Homo sapiens: one gene and its partner. The protein of the gene in region 1 purifies or fractionates together with the protein of each later gene. This does not show direct contact. Each region holds a gene or a part of one and is shown on either strand. Other genes may lie near its edges. The genes, in order: MACC1 and FCHO2.

Region 1 (3,827 bases):
ATCCCATATTTTAAAAATGGTACTCAAGGCAAAACACAAACTTGTAGACTTGTTTGAAACATGCATGGTTAGGTAAGAGCCTGATGGTTTTCTATTTTGCATTGTAGAAGACTAGGTGTTTTGTCTTTAATACCTTGTACTTTATGTTTAATACCATTATATTGGTGATGAGGGAGAGTATTTTTAATAAATTTATATATATATATTTTAAACTTATAAACATCAATAGCTTTGTTCAAAGTTGAAGGAGTGTCTCTTTTTTTTAAACACAGCAGGCATGATTCTGGGATGTTTTAAGTCATATTTTGGTGAAAATAGAATAATATTTACCATCACCAGTTCACATACACTTTAAAGAAATTCTTGTAGCCAATCCTCTCCTAGAACGAGGCTTTATTTCTTGTGAGTAAATAACTAATCCTAGAGTGATAAATTAGAGACTGCCGGAACTTCAGAGTACCATTGGAAGTGTGTAATTTAACTTCCTTTTTTCACAATTAAAGATACAAAGACACATATTAGTTAAGTGGTTTATCCAAGGTCCTATAATTAGCCACTGAATTAGTTCTAAATCTCCCCTAACTCTGGCTTAGTTATGTCTACTGTAGTTTGCTTATAGAATTTGCTTAAATGTGAATCAACTCCTTGAGCTTTAGAAAACTCGATTATACGTGTAGTGAAAAAAAAGGACTCCCATTTGTAGAATATGTAATAAAAATTCCAATTTATAGAGAGAAAAGCCCAAGTTAGTTGCTTTTAATTGTGACATGTAATTGTTGCTGCAGGCTCTTCTGAAAATGGATTGCCAAGAGTTAGTCGCACGTCTCATCCAAGAAGCTGCTGTTCTGACTTCAGCTGTCAAGCTTGGAAAAGGCTGGAGGGAACTAGCTGAAAAGTTAGTACGACTCACAAAGCAACAAATGGAGGCATATGAAATTCCTCATCGAGGAAACACTGGAGATGTTGCTGTTGAGGTAAGACTTCTGTTTGTGTAATTCAATAGTGAAAAGTTGCAGACCAAGTAACACTAATGTAATCAAACCCATACCACATTCACGGATTCACTGGGGGAATGTCCAAGATGATCCACTAACTGAATCACTGCACTAGTAACTCATCAGTACTATCTGAAATAAACACACACACTCTTAAAAGGCATTGAGAGCCCTTAAAATATTGATGTTTCTTCTTTTGGATTTCATATTCTCATGGCCTTTGATCAATGAATTAATTGATCAAATTGGGCCAGTAAGTGGGGATGGCTATAAGAACTTGAGTCATAAAACAGGTAAATTTTGAAGGTGGGAGACAGGATCAAGTCAGGACAATAGAGGAAGACATAATGATATGTACTTATCGGCCTCAGGCATAAACTTAGTCACTTGCGATAACTAATGCTCAGGGACAAGAAGTAGTAAGAAAGTGGATGTAGAGCCACTGGTGATGAGAGATTGATAACTAAGAGCTTCATTATCTCCTTCACAATGTTGCCTACAGTAACTACAGGCATCAGTTGCAGAATGTTAGCACTTAGTACAAAGTAAATATTTACCATGAAAATATTGTTTTTATCAAAACAAATGTATGCTGTTAGGCACAAGTTAAACACATATTTTTCTCCAGATTACCATAAAGAACTGGGAGTCAATTTTTATTGAATTAAATAAATAAAAATATTCCAGTGAAGGGCACATGTAAAATATTCTGTATCTTTCTCTCAAATGAACAAGCATTTTGAAGATATTTATGTTTAAGGAAATCTTCTCTCTATTAGAGATGACTTGGTGAGAGCAGAAGCTGTATTCTTCACTTTGTTTTTGGCGTAGATCTGGGTATTAATTTTTGGAGAAAATTTTCTTGCTTCGATGCAACCATTCCAGTTGGGTGAACAGGACAAAACCACCTTTGCATGAAAAGTAGAGTCAAATCAAGTCAGCTGAATTCCAGCAGCTGCAGTGGAAGTGTCAGCAGGCTGGTTTCTGAGTTCCTGCAGCCTGGCTCTCCAGCCAGGACTTCTCCAAAATAAGACTCTTTAGCCAGGAGCAACCAGGGACTGAGGATGTCTTTCCCCTCAGAGACTACATTTATCTCCATAAACTTAGAAGGGCATTACAGCCTATAAATAAGCATAATATAGCATTTGGTGCAGTACACAAAATGGACTCAAGTGTTTACAGAATGAGATGAAAGATAGGAAGCCTTTAAGAAGGAAAAACAAATATTATGAGGGATACGCTCTTCTGATTCGGACATTTCAGTTAACTGATGAAAAAGTTGTCTAATTGAAAGCAGGACCTTTTTTTCTTAATAAGGTTCTGTTTTGAAAGAGTTTTGTTGAGAGTTATTTATCAGAGTTATTTATTCTGTCAGCCTCCTTAAGCATCTGGCTTCTCTCTAATTGTGGTTGTTTATAGTTTGTCTTCCCCTAAATCTTGATGGAGGCCAGCAAACCACCCACTTTTCCATTATTTACTTTTGCACAGCCCAAATCATAAATGACTAAGTCTTTGCCTGAGGCTGATAAACACTCAGAAGCAGAAAGGAAAGCCCCTAGGTGTCTTTCTATGATAGTTCAACTTATTGTGATTAATAGTAATAGTCATCACTCAGATTCATGTTATTAAATACTTAGAAAAATCCACAGTATATTGGCCTGAGGTCATTCCAAATAATATACAGAAATCTTACGTACGAGGTCACTTAACTAATGGGTAAATATATGCTAATTTCCAACCTCCTAAAAAATAGCTGTATAATTTTTCTCTTTGGGAGGAGATTCCTAAATATGATCAATTTACAATTCAAGTAGTTGATTTCAAAGCACACTGATATTAGTTCTGGGTAGGGGGTGCAGAGGGAGGGAAGTGCACTGGGGCAGGGAGATAATTAGGTCTAGCAGTTGCTGGGCCGCTTTTTTTCCTGTATGTCATTTCCTCAGAGGGCACACACTCCAAAAACTGCCTTCTATGTGTGCCAATGCCTGCAGTTGAGCTGTTTCGCTTACTTTCTCTCCTTTAACTTCTTTCTCTTCCCTTTGTTCTATTTTTATTGTATCTTAGGGAGAGTTATCTGGCACTGACTCCGTGACAGACACTGTTCTGGAAATATTACAAAAATTAATTAATGTAATCCTTTCAATAAAAACTCATGGGGCAGACACTAATATCTAAGATATGGAGAGGATAAGTAACTTGCTTAAACATACACAGCTGGAAAGTCCTGGAACCATGTTTAGAGCACAGACATTTGACTTCAGAGTCCATGACTTTAACCATTACACTCTGTCCATCACTGTTTAATATGGTGACTATGTTGCAGAGTCAGAAGGTGCGGCCAGGGTTAAGCAACTTGTTTCATTTTTTATTTGTCCTCTTTTCAGGCCATGTCAAGTAGCCATGATACTATCAAAAATTGCCTCAAAATTAAATCTTTACCAAGCCTCAAGCTGGTTAAAAAATGAAGTATATTAATAATAAATTTGTCAGATTTTCTGAACACCTTAACCATTTCTTAATTTTTTCTAAGGTGAAGAAAAAGCCTCTCTTTGGAAACTTTTGAGAATGTCACTTTTGAAATTAACCATCTCCTCAAGTTAAATTTTAAGAAATGTTACTCGACTTTTCTAATGACATGGTAATTACTACATAAAAGCAAAGCTGTAAAGCTTGGAATCTGATAATAAGCAAAGTATGTTTTTCAGAGTATTTCTTTCAGAAAAAATGCACTTACACTATACAAAGATGTCACTATTGCCAAGGTTCTTCCGTGAAAGTTAGTGAAAATTTATTGGCATTTTCTGAATATATTTAGAGTTTTAATTTTTTAAA
Region 2 (3,827 bases), on another chromosome or scaffold:
TTGTTTATGTTTTATACACACCATATACTCATAGCCTGAAGGTAATTTTATACAATATTTTAACTATTTTTCTTTTTCTTTCTTTTTTTTTTCTTTTTTTTTTTTGAGACGGAGTCTCACTCTGTCGCCCAGCTGGAGTGCAGTGGCACCATCTCGGCTCACTGCAACCTCTGCCTCCCGGGTTCACACCATTCTGCCTCAGCCTCCCGAGTAGCTGGGATTACAGGCGTGTGTCACCAAGCCCAGCTAATTTTTTTGTATTTTTAGTAGAGATGGGGTTTCACCGTGTTAGCCAGGATGGTCTCGATCTCCTGACCTCGTGATCCACCTGCCTCAGCCTCCCAAAGTGCTGGGATTACCGGCGTGAGCCACCGTGCCCGGCCTATTTTAACTATTTTTCTACATGAAACAAAGTTTTGACTGAATTTTGACCATGACCTGTCATGAGGTCAGGTGTGGAATTTTCTGCTTTTGGCATCATGTTGGTCCTCAAAAAATATATAGATTTTGGAGCATTTCTGATATTTTGATTAGGGATGTTTGTTTGTTTATTTATTTATTTGAGACAGAGTTTCGCTCTTGTTGCCCAGGCTGGAGTGCGGTGGCATGATCTTGGCTCACTGCAGCCTCCGCCTCCCGGATTCAAGCGATTCTCCTGCCTCAGCCTTCCAAGTAGCTGGGATTACAGGCACCCACCACCATGCTCAGCTAATTTTTGTATTTTTAGTACAGACGGGGTTTCACCATGTTAGCCAGGCTGGTCTTGAACTCCTGACCTCAGGTGATCTGCCAGCCTCGGCCTCCCAAAGTACTGGGATTACAGGCGTGAGCCACCGTGCCTGGCTGATTAGGGATGTTTAATCTGTACTGGAAATTGAACTTCTTTACCTTGCTGTTAAACTCACACATTGATATACTAATATTAACTTTTTTGGGTGAACAAAGTATTACTCTTGTAGTAATAGTATTTTAAAATGACAGAAGAACTTAAAGGAGCAGGAAAGAGTCACAGTACTATCAGCGAGAGGCAGTTACTGTTAATATTTCCTTTTTGTTAGAGAGCTGGTTTTTGTGCAAATTTGGTTGGGAAAGAGTTTGGAGATTAGTTTAGATATTCTGAGTTTGAGGTGGTTCACATATCTTAATTATGTTTGGGGCAGTTAGATATTGAACAGGTGGGTCAGTGCAAGAGTAGTGTGAAGATCTGGATTTAGACATTAGAAGCAGAAAGTTGGTTGGACCAATCAAAGTAAATGGAGGGATGATGGTGGTTGTAGAATGTTCCCCTATTAAGGGTAGCACACATTGAGAAGAGCCAGGCAAAAGGTAAAACTATAAGTTTTGTAGTGTTAAGAAGGCCAAACAGGCCGGGCGCAGTGGCTCATGCCTGTAATCCCAGCACTTTGGGAGGCTGAGTGGGGCGGATCACAAGGTCAGGAGTTTGAGACCAGCCTGACCAATATGGTGAAATCCTGTCTCTACTAAAAATACAAAAATTAGCTGGGTGTGGTGGCGGGTGCCTGTAGTCCCAGCTACTCGGGAGGCTGAGGCAGGAGAATCGCTTGAATCCGGGAGGCGGAGGTTGCAGTGAGCCAAGATTGCACCACTGTACTCCAGCCTGGGTGACAGAGCCATATTCCGTCTCAAAAAAAGAAGGCCATACAAAATGTGTATTCTGTATTTATAGGTTACATGTCTGTAGGATAATTTGTGTCTTTTAGAATTCTATATTTAATGGCTGTGGATGTTTTTTACGGAATAAAATCTCATATGCTAAACAGTAGTTATATAAAACACAGTTTTCTAGTGTGAAATATTTGCTAATATTTTAGATCTGATCACAAAATAAATTAAGCCATGAATGAAGTTCAGGATTTCAGACTTGATGATATATTTAGTTTTGTGCAAATGACTGTCATTAATCTCTTGTTCTATTAAATGTGCATCACAGTGTTGAAGAATAATAAAACTAAGTACAACAAAGAATTATTAAATACAAATGACACACTTATCACAGTGAACCAGCTTACAGAGACAGAGAGAATACAAGAAGTAGCACTCATGTATTTCCTGTTCAGATAAGCATTGGTACTAAAGATAAAAAGAGTTGTGATTCCATTAAAATTTTTTCTGTGGCTGAGCGTGGTGGCTCATGCCTATGATCTCAGCACTTTGGGAGGCCTAGGTGGGAGGATTGCTTGAGCCCTGGAATTCCAGATTAGCCTGGGCAACATAGCAAGGCCCCATCTCTACAAAAAAATACAAAACTTAGCTGGGTGTTGTGGGGCATGCTTGTAGTGTGAGCTACTCAGGAGGCTGAGGTGGGAGGATTGCTTAAGCCTAGGAGGTCAAAGCTGCAGTGAGCTATGATCATACCACTGTACTCCAGCCTGGGTGACAGAGCAAGACTGTTTTAAAAAAAAATTTGTGTGTGTGATATAAATTATTTTAGTTCTATACCAGAAAGGACATTTGAAGATAGGCCGGAAATTCATGACTACATATATGTACTTATTTTTAACATGTAATTTTTGAGGTATCTTTTTGTTTTGCACTTTTAATTGTATTTTGATAACTTTGCTGTTTTTGGTCACTAAATAAGAAGTATTATGATGTGGATATTTGATTTAACAGAGCTACCATAGAGGAGGCATACTCCAGGTCAATGACAAAACTAGCAAAATCTGCAAGCAATTATTCACAACTTGGGTGAGTTAATTTCTTCCTCTTTTTCAGTGTTTATTTAGGCAAAGTTCTTAAGGATTCTAGGTTCCTTTTGAGGACATAACAGTTCAAAAGCATAGTAAAATATATGCTTATTTAAAAGTATCTGTAAATATTAATATATTCTTCACTTGATAGAAAATATAATTGAACTTGCTGAATCAGTCAATGCAGTCAAAACTAAATGAAATTTATTTTTTCCCTTTTTAAAAACTAGTCATTCAATAGTGTTTGAGATTATAAATGTTATCTTATGCACATGCAATGTATTTATTCTAGTTGTCTGTAAGTTCCTATTTAAATTCTGTTGTAGTTTAACAGTGATCTTTAAAAACTCACTTAAGATAAACTTTATTGAAATGATTAAGATGCATTAAAAATGTCTCCTGTGATTTTATAGACTGTCATTAAATCTTCCTTTTAAAAATTTGTATTAAAAATGTGTTCCTTGAAAAATGAAAATAATGAAAAGAATACATTTAAAATGAGATGTGCTCATTGCCATAACAATTATGGAAAGAATAATTATCTAAAAATTGGGCTTTTGCATGTTTAAATTCACAGAAACTTTATTTTTGATGAAGTATTTTAAATGGAATACTTGTTTTAAATTGAAGTTTGATAATAGTTAATTTTTAACAATAGACAGTGATAGAAAGGCTTCTGATACAAGTATAAATACTAAATCAATTCAGAAATTAATATAATTAAGAGGGTTAAGACTTGTGATAATGTAATTAACCCATTTCTATATTCCTGAGGTCCAAAAATATTTTAAATAACCAATGACAAAAAAAATTCAAGGTCAGTCTGTCAATCATTTTATTCATTATTTTAATTTCATCTTTTGCCTAAATAAAGTTGCCATATATACCACTATTATTTCCACTGGTTCCTTGTTAGAACCTTAATTTTCTTTTTTACTTTTAATAAGTTATTCCCATATTTTTTATTTTCTTAGAACATTTGCACCAGTATGGGATGTATTCAAAACATCTACAGAGAAATTAGCAAATTGTCACTTGGATCTTGTTAGAAAATTACAAGAATTAATAAAGGAAGTTCAGAAGTATGGAGAAGAACAAGTAAAGTCTCATAAAAAG

The links.
Region 2: the proteins of MACC1 (region 1) and FCHO2 purify together in Homo sapiens (affinity purification with mass spectrometry; one large-scale study listed by BioGRID and IntAct). This does not show direct contact.

Annotation. Positions count from the first base shown.
Region 1 is NC_000007.14:20,151,340-20,155,166, reverse strand, and holds part of MACC1 (metastasis-associated in colon cancer protein 1), read left to right. Parts: intron 1-785; coding exon 786-974; intron 975-1,635; exon of another isoform or gene 1,636-1,903; intron 1,904-3,827. UniProt on the Homo sapiens protein: Acts as a transcription activator for MET and as a key regulator of HGF-MET signaling. Promotes cell motility, proliferation and hepatocyte growth factor (HGF)-dependent scattering in vitro and tumor growth and metastasis in vivo.
Region 2 is NC_000005.10:72,986,793-72,990,619, forward strand, and holds part of FCHO2 (F-BAR domain only protein 2), read left to right. Parts: intron 1-2,634; coding exon 2,635-2,709; intron 2,710-3,685; coding exon 3,686-3,827. UniProt on the Homo sapiens protein: Functions in an early step of clathrin-mediated endocytosis. Has both a membrane binding/bending activity and the ability to recruit proteins essential to the formation of functional clathrin-coated pits.